Regions from separate parts of the Homo sapiens genome. Here region 1 is linked to region 2. The links come from fine-mapping of genetic effects on gene expression. A gene starts in region 2. The other region holds a variant in brackets. All regions are shown on one strand. Distances are between the middles of the regions. Region 1 overlaps BUB1B-PAK6 (BUB1B-PAK6 readthrough). Region 2 holds the start of PAK6 (p21 (RAC1) activated kinase 6).

What was found. PIP is the estimated chance that this variant, and not a neighbour inherited with it, causes the effect.
Region 1: its variant is the best candidate, but not a certain one, in a credible set for the expression of PAK6 in skeletal muscle (GTEx, PIP 0.73).

The regions. Positions count from the first base shown.
Region 1 is chr15:40,260,925-40,266,293 of GRCh38, forward strand. It overlaps BUB1B-PAK6 (BUB1B-PAK6 readthrough), which reads left to right. Exons shown (of 10, transcript NM_001128629.3): 3 at 3,857-4,065; 4 at 4,918-5,369. The coding sequence starts at 3,862. PAK6 (p21 (RAC1) activated kinase 6) reads left to right here. Exons shown (of 11, transcript NM_001395430.1): 4 at 3,857-4,065; 5 at 4,918-5,369. The coding sequence starts at 3,862. Among named protein-coding and RNA genes, the nearest start is that of PAK6-AS1, 11 kb to the left of the region's middle. The variant A/C (reference allele first, on the strand shown) is at 2,287.
Region 2 is chr15:40,236,374-40,241,742 of GRCh38, forward strand. PAK6 (p21 (RAC1) activated kinase 6) reads left to right here and starts at 2,690. Exons shown (of 11, transcript NM_001395430.1): 1 at 2,690-3,429; 2 at 4,226-4,308. The region is part of intron 1 of BUB1B-PAK6 (BUB1B-PAK6 readthrough); the gene reads left to right. LOC107984763 (a long non-coding RNA gene) reads right to left here and starts at 3,328. Exons shown (of 3, transcript XR_001751506.2): 1 at 3,112-3,328.

The DNA.
Region 1 (5,369 bases), 25 kb after region 2:
GTCGCCCAGGCTGGAATGCAGTGGCCTGATCTCAGCTCACTGCAAGCTCCGCCTCCCAGGTTCACGCCATTCTCCTGCCTCAGCCTCCTGAGTAGCTGGGACTACAGGTGCCCACCACCACACCCGGCTAATGTTTTGTAGTTTTAGTAGAGACGGGGTTTCACCGTGTTAGCCAGGATGATCTCTATCTCCTGACCTCGTGATTCGCCCACCTCGGCCTCCCAAAGTGCTGGGATTACAGGCGTGAGCCACCGCGCCTGGCCCTTTTTAAAAATTTCATGTTGTTACTGGTATGTAGAAATCCAGTTGATTTTTTAAAATATTGACCTTGAGCCTGGGCACGGTGGCTCATGCCTGTAATCCCAGCACTTTGGGAGGCTGAGGCGGGTGGATCATGAAGTCAAGAGATCGAGACCATCCTGGCCAACATGGTGAAACCCCATCTCTACTAAAAATACAAAAATTAGCTGGGCGTGATGGCGTGCGCCTGTAGTCCCAGCTACTCAGTAGGCTAAGGCAGGAGAATCACTTGAACCCGGGAGGCAGAGATTGCAGTGAGCTGAGATCACACCACTGCACTCCAGCCCGGGCAAGACAGCGAGACTCCATCTCAAAAAATATATATATATATATTGACCTTGAATCAGGGACCTTCTAAATTCACTCCCTTAATCCCAGTTTTATGTAGATTCTCCCGCATTTTCTACTTACACAGTTATGTTGTCCCACACAGTGTTGGCCTCACCACATTTCAGATGAGTCCTAGCTGCCTCCCTTTAGGTGGTTGATTGGTTGATTTTCCAGACCTAAGTGATGGCCTCTGGTTTCTAAAGCTCTACTCCCTAGCCCCCAAAGCCTGAGCTCAGCTGATTGCTTCTGCCAACTCCCACCCTCACCATCACCACTCCTGGCCCTGGGACACCCTCTGGGCTGTCCTTCTTTCTTCTCCAGCCTCCCTGCTGCCTCTGGGAAGAACTTGTTCCGGAATGGCTCACTATTAGAATGGACTCAAGAGAGGCTCCCAGAGTCAGAGACCATTTGCTAAAGATGCTCTCCCTGTGCATCCCCACAGCAAAAGCTGAGCGCTTGGGTGGGGCAGGGGAGTTGGGGAGAGGGCTGTTCTGGGGTGGGTGGTGGGGGGCGGATTCACCAGCTCTTCTTCAGCTGCAGTCTGTGTCCCTGCACCTCCAGAAGATTTCACAGAGCTAGGGAGGAGGGCGAAACAGGCAGCTCAACTAATCCAGGGATAGCAGGTCTATCCAAGGGACTGGGGGAATAGACCTGCTGAATAAAGACTCTTCTGTAGCAAAAGGCAAAGGCTGTAATCCCAGCACTTTGGGAGACCAAGGCAGGTGGATCATTTGAAGTCAGAAGTTCGAGACCAGCCTGGCCAACATGGTGAAATCCCGTCTCTACTAAAAATACAAAAATTAGCCGGGTATGTTGGTGGGTGCCTGTAATCTCAGCTATTCAGGAGGCTGAGGCAAGAGAATCACTTGAACCCGGGAGGTGGAGGTTGCAGTGAGCCCAGATGGTGCCACTACACTCCAGTCTGGGCGACAGGGCGGCAAGACTCCTTCTCAAAAACAACAACAACAACAACAAACAACAACAAAAAAGGCAAAGGCCAAAAGGAGGAGGACAAATTTTACCAAACCATGATGTATATATGGCGAGGTCCCCAGGTCCCAGACCCCTGACATCAGGCATGACCCCTTTGACTGGTAAGTCTGAGCAGAAAGTGGTTTGGTGTTACTCCCAGACTTGTATCTGCCCAAGTGCCAGTGTCTGGAGGGCCTGAGCTTCAAGACAGGGATTCAAAGAGAGGTGACATCACAAGAGAAACAACCGTCATGTATGGGGACTCTGCTTACTTCACACACCCTAAACCCTATGAGCTGTCTTTCATTAACCCCCCTGGCTCAGATCATTTCAGTTATTTGTTCAAAATCTCTCCAAATTATTAGTGGGAGACTCCCTACAACTCATCTGCAACTCACACAGGTTGTTTTATTCCAAAGGGCTTGGTCTGTAAGGGTCCTGTACATGTGGCTCTACCTCTAGGGGGTGTTCGGTGGATCCCGAACCTCAAGACCCAGAAGCATGGCTGACATTGAGATGTGACGTGGGCTCTGATTGAGTCACGCATGGTGAATTCCTAGTGGGGAACCACTGGCTGTCCAGGGTCCCTGCCTTTCTGCCAGCTGCCTCCCAGATCTGCGACCTCCTTCAGAACCTGCCAAAATGACTAGGAAAATGCTGTTTCCATAGCAAGAGCCAAAAGAG[A/C]ACATGACGGCCCTGCACTCCAGATCTTCGGGCGGATGAGTAATCCAAGCTTTCAGTTCAAGAATCATGTTTCAGTTTCTTGAAGCCTGGAAGTGACCTTTTCAGATACATAAGAACCCAGTGAGCTGTTCTGAGCCTCTTCAGATCCAAAAGCATTCAAGAGGCAGCCCTGGCCCTGTCTGCCATCAACATGTGATCCCAGGTCCGGGATCCCCTGAAGGCGAAACTAGAGCAACCCTTTGGAAGTGTCCCTCCCCTTCCCAGGCCCCCAGTTCCCCACTCTCAGATCTACCCATGCTATCCATTGCAAGCCTGTGTCACTTCTGTGTATGCAGCTCAGCACGACCTTAGGCAAAGCCAGAATCAGCAAGGCACGGGACACAGGCTTGATTGCAGGTTAAGTGTTTTATTGTTTGTTTTTTGAGACAGAGTCTCATTCTGTTGCCCAGGCTGGAGTGCAGTGGGGCAATCTCAGCTCACTGCAGCCTCAGCCTCCTGGGTTCAAGCGATTCTCCTCCCTCAACCCCATGGGTATCCGGGACTACAGGCACGTGCCACCAGGCCCGGCTAATTTCTTTGTATTTTTAGTCAAGACAGGTTTTCACCATGTTGGCCAAGCTGGTCTCAAACTCCTGACCTCAGGTGATCCACCCGCCTCGGCCTCCCAGAGTACTAGGATTACAGGCATGAACCACCATGCCCGGCCCAGGTGATGTTTTACATAGAGCTCCAATACCAGAGAGAAGAGTGTCAAGGGGAGGTGGTGCTCTCTGCCTTCTCTGGAGAGCTTTACCCCTAAGTTAGCTGCCCCTCACCCACCCCAGGCTATCCTCTTGGCTCAGGGCCTTTCTGGAATTGAGGTAAAGCACATGGTAACCATGAAGGCCCTTTGGGGGCTCCCTGATACATAATAGTCCCACACCGGGCAGCATGTCTGTGATCAGCTGGTTGGCTTTTTATTAACGTATCATATTAACAGGTTCAACCATCCTGGGACAAAGCTGAGTTGTAATAAAAAAAAAAAGCCAACAAAAAAATAACTTTAATATACTGTTGGATTCAATTCGATAGTTTTAAGATTTTCATAGTTACGTTCCTAAATGATATTGAGTCAAATTTTCCTTTTCTTGCACTCTCCTTATCTGGTTTTAAGAATCAAGGTCATACTCGTTTCATAAAACAAGCTTGCTAACTTTCCTCCCTCTTTCCCCATTTTTAAAATTCGTTGACAGACAGTGGAATGATACTTGTAATGGGCTTTGGATTTTATAAAAACACACCCCCAGAGTCTGCCTGCTCCATAGGGGACTTGGCACAGGCAAGAAGACACCTCTTTTCCTTGTTTATAGTCTGCACTGGCTTATTTATGGCACGTTTGTTGTTTCTGGGACTGTTCTGCTGGGAGCCAGCCATTTCCCTGAGGAAGCAGAGATGGAGGTGGAGGGAAGCCCTAGGCTTCTAGGGGAGCTGTGCTGGGGGAGGGGAGGGAGCCCTGAACCTGGTGCCCCAGGCCCTGCTGCAGCCACCCCTCTTTCCCGGGAGGGAGCTCAACCTTACTCTGCACTTACAGGCACCATGTTCCGCAAGAAAAAGAAGAAACGCCCTGAGATCTCAGCGCCACAGAACTTCCAGCACCGTGTCCACACCTCCTTCGACCCCAAAGAAGGCAAGTTTGTGGGCCTCCCCCCACAATGGCAGAACATCCTGGACACACTGCGGCGCCCCAAGCCCGTGGTGGACCCTTCGCGAATCACACGGGTGCAGCTCCAGCCCATGAAGGTAAGAGGGGCCGGCAGGGATGAGGTTCAGCCTCTCCCAGTACTCAGACAACCATGCCTGGCTAAACCTCAGAAAGGCCCCTGGAGGAACCACCTACTTCACAGCTATCAGTTAATCAGCTGTTTTAACTCCCTGCCTGTCAGCCTGCCATTCTCTCCCTGGGTAAGCCAGGGCGAAGGAGGCTGGGGAGACCCTCTCTGCAGGGTGGTGGGGTTGCCAGATTCAGCACATGAAAATGTGAGATGCTCAATTGCATTTGTATTTCAGATGACAACGAATAGTCTTTTAGGACGTGTCCCATTCAATATTTGGACCTGCAGCCCCATAGGGACTGAGGGCTCTCCCAGACCAGGAGAATTTTAGTTGTGAGGGTCACGACTAGTAGACCCAAGAGCCTGGTAGAAGGTGGGGTCAGGGGCCCTATCAGGGTTTGGAGGCTGCGAAGCCAGTGTGTGTGGAGGAGCCCCCGGCCTGGTGTCTCTTCCTCAGAGGGCTGGGCACATCTCTCCCAGCCACCCGTGGAGCTAGAGAATGGAGCCCCGCCCCCTGAGCTCCAGCTCCCTGGCCCAGCCGACCACACCCCTGGGCATGCTGGATGCAGCCCCATGGCACTCACCATCTGCTCTGCTGACGCTGGGCCTTCTCCCCGCATCCCTGCATCCAGCACAGGCGGGACCCACGGTGGGCCCTGATAAATTATGGAAAAATTAATGGGTGGATGACACAGCAGGGAAGGTCCTTAGGTGGTCCTCCCCAGGGCCCCCAGGGACATTCTCTGACCCTGATCTCCCAGCCACCCCTCCCTGCCACAATTGGGCAGCTCCCACACACTCTTTTCTCTTCCCCCTACAGACAGTGGTGCGGGGCAGCGCGATGCCTGTGGATGGCTACATCTCGGGGCTGCTCAACGACATCCAGAAGTTGTCAGTCATCAGCTCCAACACCCTGCGTGGCCGCAGCCCCACCAGCCGGCGGCGGGCACAGTCCCTGGGGCTGCTGGGGGATGAGCACTGGGCCACCGACCCAGACATGTACCTCCAGAGCCCCCAGTCTGAGCGCACTGACCCCCACGGCCTCTACCTCAGCTGCAACGGGGGCACACCAGCAGGCCACAAGCAGATGCCGTGGCCCGAGCCACAGAGCCCACGGGTCCTGCCCAATGGGCTGGCTGCAAAGGCACAGTCCCTGGGCCCCGCCGAGTTTCAGGGTGCCTCGCAGCGCTGTCTGCAGCTGGGTGCCTGCCTGCAGAGCTCCCCACCAGGAGCCTCGCCCCCCACGGGCACCAATAGGCATGGAATGAAGGC
Region 2 (5,369 bases):
GCTCACTGCAATCTCCACCTCCCGGGTTCGAGCAATTCTCCGCCTCAGCCTCCTGAGTAGCTGAGATTACAGGTGCCCACCACCACACCCAGCTAATTTTTGTATTCTTAGTAGAGACGGGGTTTCGCCATGTTGGCCAGGCTGGTCTCGAACTCCTGACGTCAGGTGATCCACCCACCTCGGCCTCCCAAAGTGCTGGGATTACAGGCGTGTGCCACTGCGTCTGGCCTATTATTAGTTTTAAAAACATACATTCCTTTATTTTTACTTTTGTATTGTTTAAATACAACAGTACATGTTCACTGAAACAATGCAAGAGTGTAAAAAGTCCAAAGTGAAAGACCCCTCTCACCACCACTCCTATTTCCAAGGATAACCACATTGACAGTTTGCGGTTTAAACATACAGATATAGAAATATCTTTAAATAAAAAAACTTATATGAGATTATGCCATCTCATTTTCAAGTTAACATTGATAAACCTGGTCTTTTTGCTCAACTATCGTGGTCATCCTTCCTCATACATACGTATGTACATGCATACCGGTACACACATAGCTGGTACATACATACCGACTGACAAAACTCATTCATTTTAAGGCTGCAGATACTTCATTGCATGGGGATGTACCATCCTGTATAGATCTGTCACCCAATTAATCTGCCCAATTGATGCACATTTTGGTGGCTTCAAATTCTTTGCAGTTACAAACAGTGCTACCATGAATATTCTTATACAAATATCTTCAGGCCGATGTGCAACTATTTCTTAACTTGGATTCCTAGAAGTGCATTTGCTGGATCAAGTACATACACATTTTGAAATTTTGGTCAAGACTGTAAAATTGCCCTCCAAGAAGACTGTACCAATTCACTCTCCCACCTGCCATTTTTTTTTCACTGTATAATGACAGGGAGTGGTATATCCCTTTTGTTTTAGTTTGCATTTCCTGGATCATTCCTTAGTGAGACAGAGCAGAAGTGGATTATTTATAAGTTTACACACAAAATTACATTGAGATACAAAAAGAAGAAAAATACAGAGTTCCTCTCCAAAAGGAACTGATAACCTAGTTAAAGGGAAAATGTTTCATATTGACCACAAATTGAACTTTTTTTTTCTTTTGAGACAGAGTCTCGCTCTGTCGCGCAGGCTGAAGTGCAGTGGCACAATCTTGGCTCACTGCAACCTCCGCCTCCCGGGTTCAAGCAATTCTCCTGCCTCAGCCTCCCAAGTAGCTGGGATTACAGGCATGTGCCACCACGCCCAGCTAATTTTTGTATTTTTAGTGGAATGAGGTTTCACCATGTTGGCCAGGCTGGTCTCAATCTCTTGACCTCATGGTCCACCCGCCTCAGCCTCTCAAAGTGCTGGGATTACAGGCGTGAGCCACTGTGCCTGGCCACAAATTGAAATTCTTATGTTTAATGCCATGACATCTAACACTGCGTTCAATCAAAATGTCTACGCATGCAGCTTGAGACCTTTGCACAGAAGGTGCCTAGGGTCATGATTTGGGAAGATTAATCTGCCATCAGTGGAGGGGTGGATAAAAACTAATGTTTATTGGGATCAAGATGAGCAGTCTCTGTGCCAGAAACTTTATTCCTTTAATTTCCACAGCCCTGTGAGGCAGGTGAAATCATCCCCATTTTATGGATGAGGAAATTGAAGTTCAATTGGTTCAATAACATGCCAAAGGTCACTCAACTGATGAACAGTGGAGCTGAGATGCGGAAGACTGAAGACTCACAGCCTGGACTTTTAACCAAACACCACATGGCTTCGCTACAGAAGAAAGTTAGAAAGTTTTCAAAAATAAAATGTAGAGCCAAGTGCCACCTTGGATATAAGGGACTGGGGGACGGGAAGAGGCAAGAACTCCCAGGCTTCCCTCTGGCTGTCAATAGCTAGTGGGTCCTGGCAGTGGGAGCTGGGCCATCAGAGGTGGCGCCTGAAGTGGGGCAGGCACAAAATGGGTTTTCGGGCAAGCATTTGCCCAGGTGATGGTCAAAGCCACAGAAAAAAGGTGTTTTGATGGAGTGGTGGCTGAGTGTGGGGAGAGATGAGCAGGGGACCAAGCCTGGAGCTTGGGCAGCCCACGATTGGACACTAGGAGAAGAAAAGAAGCCAGTGGAGGAGACACTGAGGCTAGGGATGGGGAGGGCACTGTGGAAGGCTGGGCTCCACCTGGCGCTCCGGGGAGCTGGCAGGGGGGCACATCAAGGAGCTCAAGCTGCCTCACCAGCAAATGCCTCTGTTTCTGACCAGGGGCAATGAAATAAAGGGACCCGGTTGAGTAACTGGTTTCTGGTCCCTGCCAGCCCAGGAAGCCAGCACCCACCCTGCCTTACATCCCATGTGCCACTCTCAGCCTTCGAAGCAAAACCAGCTGAGACCAGCACCTGCCAGATCTGAATGCGCAGCTCCAAGTTCTGGGGGGTGGGGGTGGGGGTGAGCCAAGGAGGTCTGGCTTCTCTAGGGCAAGGGTAGGAAGGACAGCAGGGAGGCTCACCCTGAGCCCGGCAGGCAGCCCTTCCTCCTCCTCCCCTTCAGCAAAGAAAGGCAGATAAAAACGTGTTTTTATAAATAGCTCCAGCCCCAGCTGATTTGTAAATTCAGTGGGTTTTTTGTGTCAATGACATCACCTTCCTCCCCATGGCAACCCCCGACGATATCAAAATTGCCAAGCAACGTTGGAGCAGCTCGGCGCCCCAAACGAGCAGGTCGATGCCTGAGGATTTAATGGAGAAATCCCAAAGTGAGCCGGGGCGCGCGGTGGAGGAGGGGCGCGCCGCAGCCGGGGCCGCTGGGCCCTGATGGGCGGGAGCGGGGTGGAGCGGCCTCGCCTGCCAGGCAGCCCTGGGCGCGGGGCTCGGCGGCCACACTCTGGAGACAGCCACGGTCCAGGCAGGTGGGGGAGGGCGCTGCTCCCGTCCTGATGTGCCAGGAGCCGCCAGCAGCCATCCAGGTGACTAAGCCGGCCCACTAGCACTGAGTCACCGCCCGCCTCGAGCTGTTCTTGCTTCTCCTTTGCATCTGATTATTTTGGGAGCTGGAAACTTGGAGCTGCACCTGAGTCCCGCCCCTTCTAGCTCTCCCCTCCCTACCTTGGGCTCCAGGAAGATGGGACTTGCTGTGAGTCTGCTGCCACCCCCTAAAGATATGGAAGACGCTGTGGGGGCCAGAAGTGCCCGGGGGGCTGTGGCAGCAGGCAGAGTGCAATAGCAGATATGGTGGTCAGGCTGCCTGTGTGTGTCCTCTGGAGGTGTTGGGACAGAAGGGCAGTCTTGTCCGAGCTGACTGGAGTCCTCCCGGGCTGGCTCTGAACTCATCTCCCACGGGGATGTTTCGGTAAAGGAGTGGCTTCTGGGGTCGGAGTGGCATTTGGAGAGCGAGGCTGGATTGGCTTAGGCTGGCCTGGGCAGGTAGGTGGCTCTGTGTTGGGTGTGGACCCACGTGTGTGTGAGTGCGAGAGTGTGTAAGCCAGTGTGTGTGCCGTCCCCCTGCTGGGGACAGCAGCTGGGTCCAGCAGAGAGCTGGCTGGGGGCTTGACAGGAGTTTATCCTAACTGATGCTGGGTGGGCGCAGGCCCTGAGATGGGCGTCAGGGAGAGGGGACGCCAGACACACGGCCTGAGCAGGGTGAGGAGCAGCTGCCAGCCCCGGCAGGCCCAGGCCCTGTCTGGGTGCACAGGACAGAGACACAGCAAGATGCCCAGGTAGGAAGCCGTCCGGAGGGGCTGGCCAGGGTGAGAGCCCATCACTGGGGGGCTGGACAGCCCATCAGCTGCCCCTTCATTCTGGCAGGCCTGGGTACCAAGGAAACAGCTTCCTACCAAGAACCATGTCACTCTCTTATGCAGGGCCAGTCAGCACCCATGTGCGTCTCTGCTGAGCTCACAGGGACACATTCAGTGAGAAGGGTGCTGGCCAGGGTACGGCTTCCCCATGATCAGGACCCAGCGGGTGCCACCCTCAAGCCCCTGGTCCCCACAGGGCATGCCCCAGTGTGTGTCAGGAGGAGGGGGGAGGTCCCTTCTCCCCCACACAGCTGGCAGCTTTGCGGGCACCAGTGAGTAAGCTGCCAGAGGGAGGGAGGCTGTGTGCCCACAGTGGCAGGACAATACCAACCAGGAGCCTTCAAGAGAAGAGGCTGGGTGAGAAAAGCACTGAGGTTTTCTTTTCCTTTTTTTTTTTTTTTTTTTTTCTATTTTGCCTGAAGGGAGTGCCGCTTCCTGGGCTAGAGACAAGCACCAGCCTGCAGTGGAGAACGCAGGACCCCGCTGCCCAGAAGGAGCAGCCACGGTAAGGTCCCCACTGCCGCTGCGTGCTCCGGATTCCTGGGCTAGGGACGGGGGTGCCAAGGTGTCCAGGCTGCCTCCCACCTGGGACAGGGAGGCTAACTCCACAGCTGTGGGTTCCTGGGTCAAGGGGCTCCACTCCCCACCCGGCCTGCCACCTTCTTTCCAGATTGATTGTGAAACAGTCCAATCCCAGCTGGTCTCTGGCTCCCTAGCTAGAGGGAGAGGTGCTTGTTTCTACTCTTCCTGCCCCAGCTGGGCCAAGCCAGTGCCACCGGGACACCCCTATCCAAGGCCCCTCTCACTTTACCACCTCTGGGACATTTCCCTTGTGTATTCATTCCACAAATATTTAGGGAGCACTGCTGGGTCCCAGGCTCCAAGTCACACCCTTTGGCTGGGTTTGACCTGGCACAGATTCTGACTCTGAAACTCAGCATCAGGGCAGGTTCAGGGAGCTGCCTGGCCAAGCACGGTCACTCCTCACAGGCCTTGGTCTCCCCACCCCTGCTGCAGGGTGGATGACCTGGTCAGCTTTGGGGACATCGGGCCCAGTGAGCTCGGGTTTATAAAGCACTGGGCCCCACCGGGAAGCAAGGCTAACGTCTTGTGGTCTCCAGTTATCCTTTCCCTGGCATTGTACACCAAGAGGTTTGTGCCGTTCTGCCTGGGGTCTTCCTGAGGCTGGTTCTGGTGGGAACTGGGCTGCAGGAGGAGAGGATGAGCTTAGGAGCCGTGTGGCCCCCAGGCCTGGTGGGCCTGGGACTCAGCCCCACGGGAGCTCATCTAGCTGGGGTTGAGGCCTTTGGGGCAAGCAAGGAGTCCCCTCTGCAGGCAGGCTTCCCTGGCGGTTGTCCTGGCCCAGGCTTGGAGGTGGCACCTGGGAGCCCTAGTGACAGAGCGCCTGGTCAGGGAAGGGTCGGCACCAGAGGCAAGCCCTTCTGGGAGCAGCTGATTTGGATGGAAGCTCTGTGCACCTGAGAGGGGGAGTGTGGGGACTGCACGGCCTCTCCAGTGCCCCGAGGACAAACTGATGCTTTGTGAGTGCTCTGGGCCCTCCCGGAC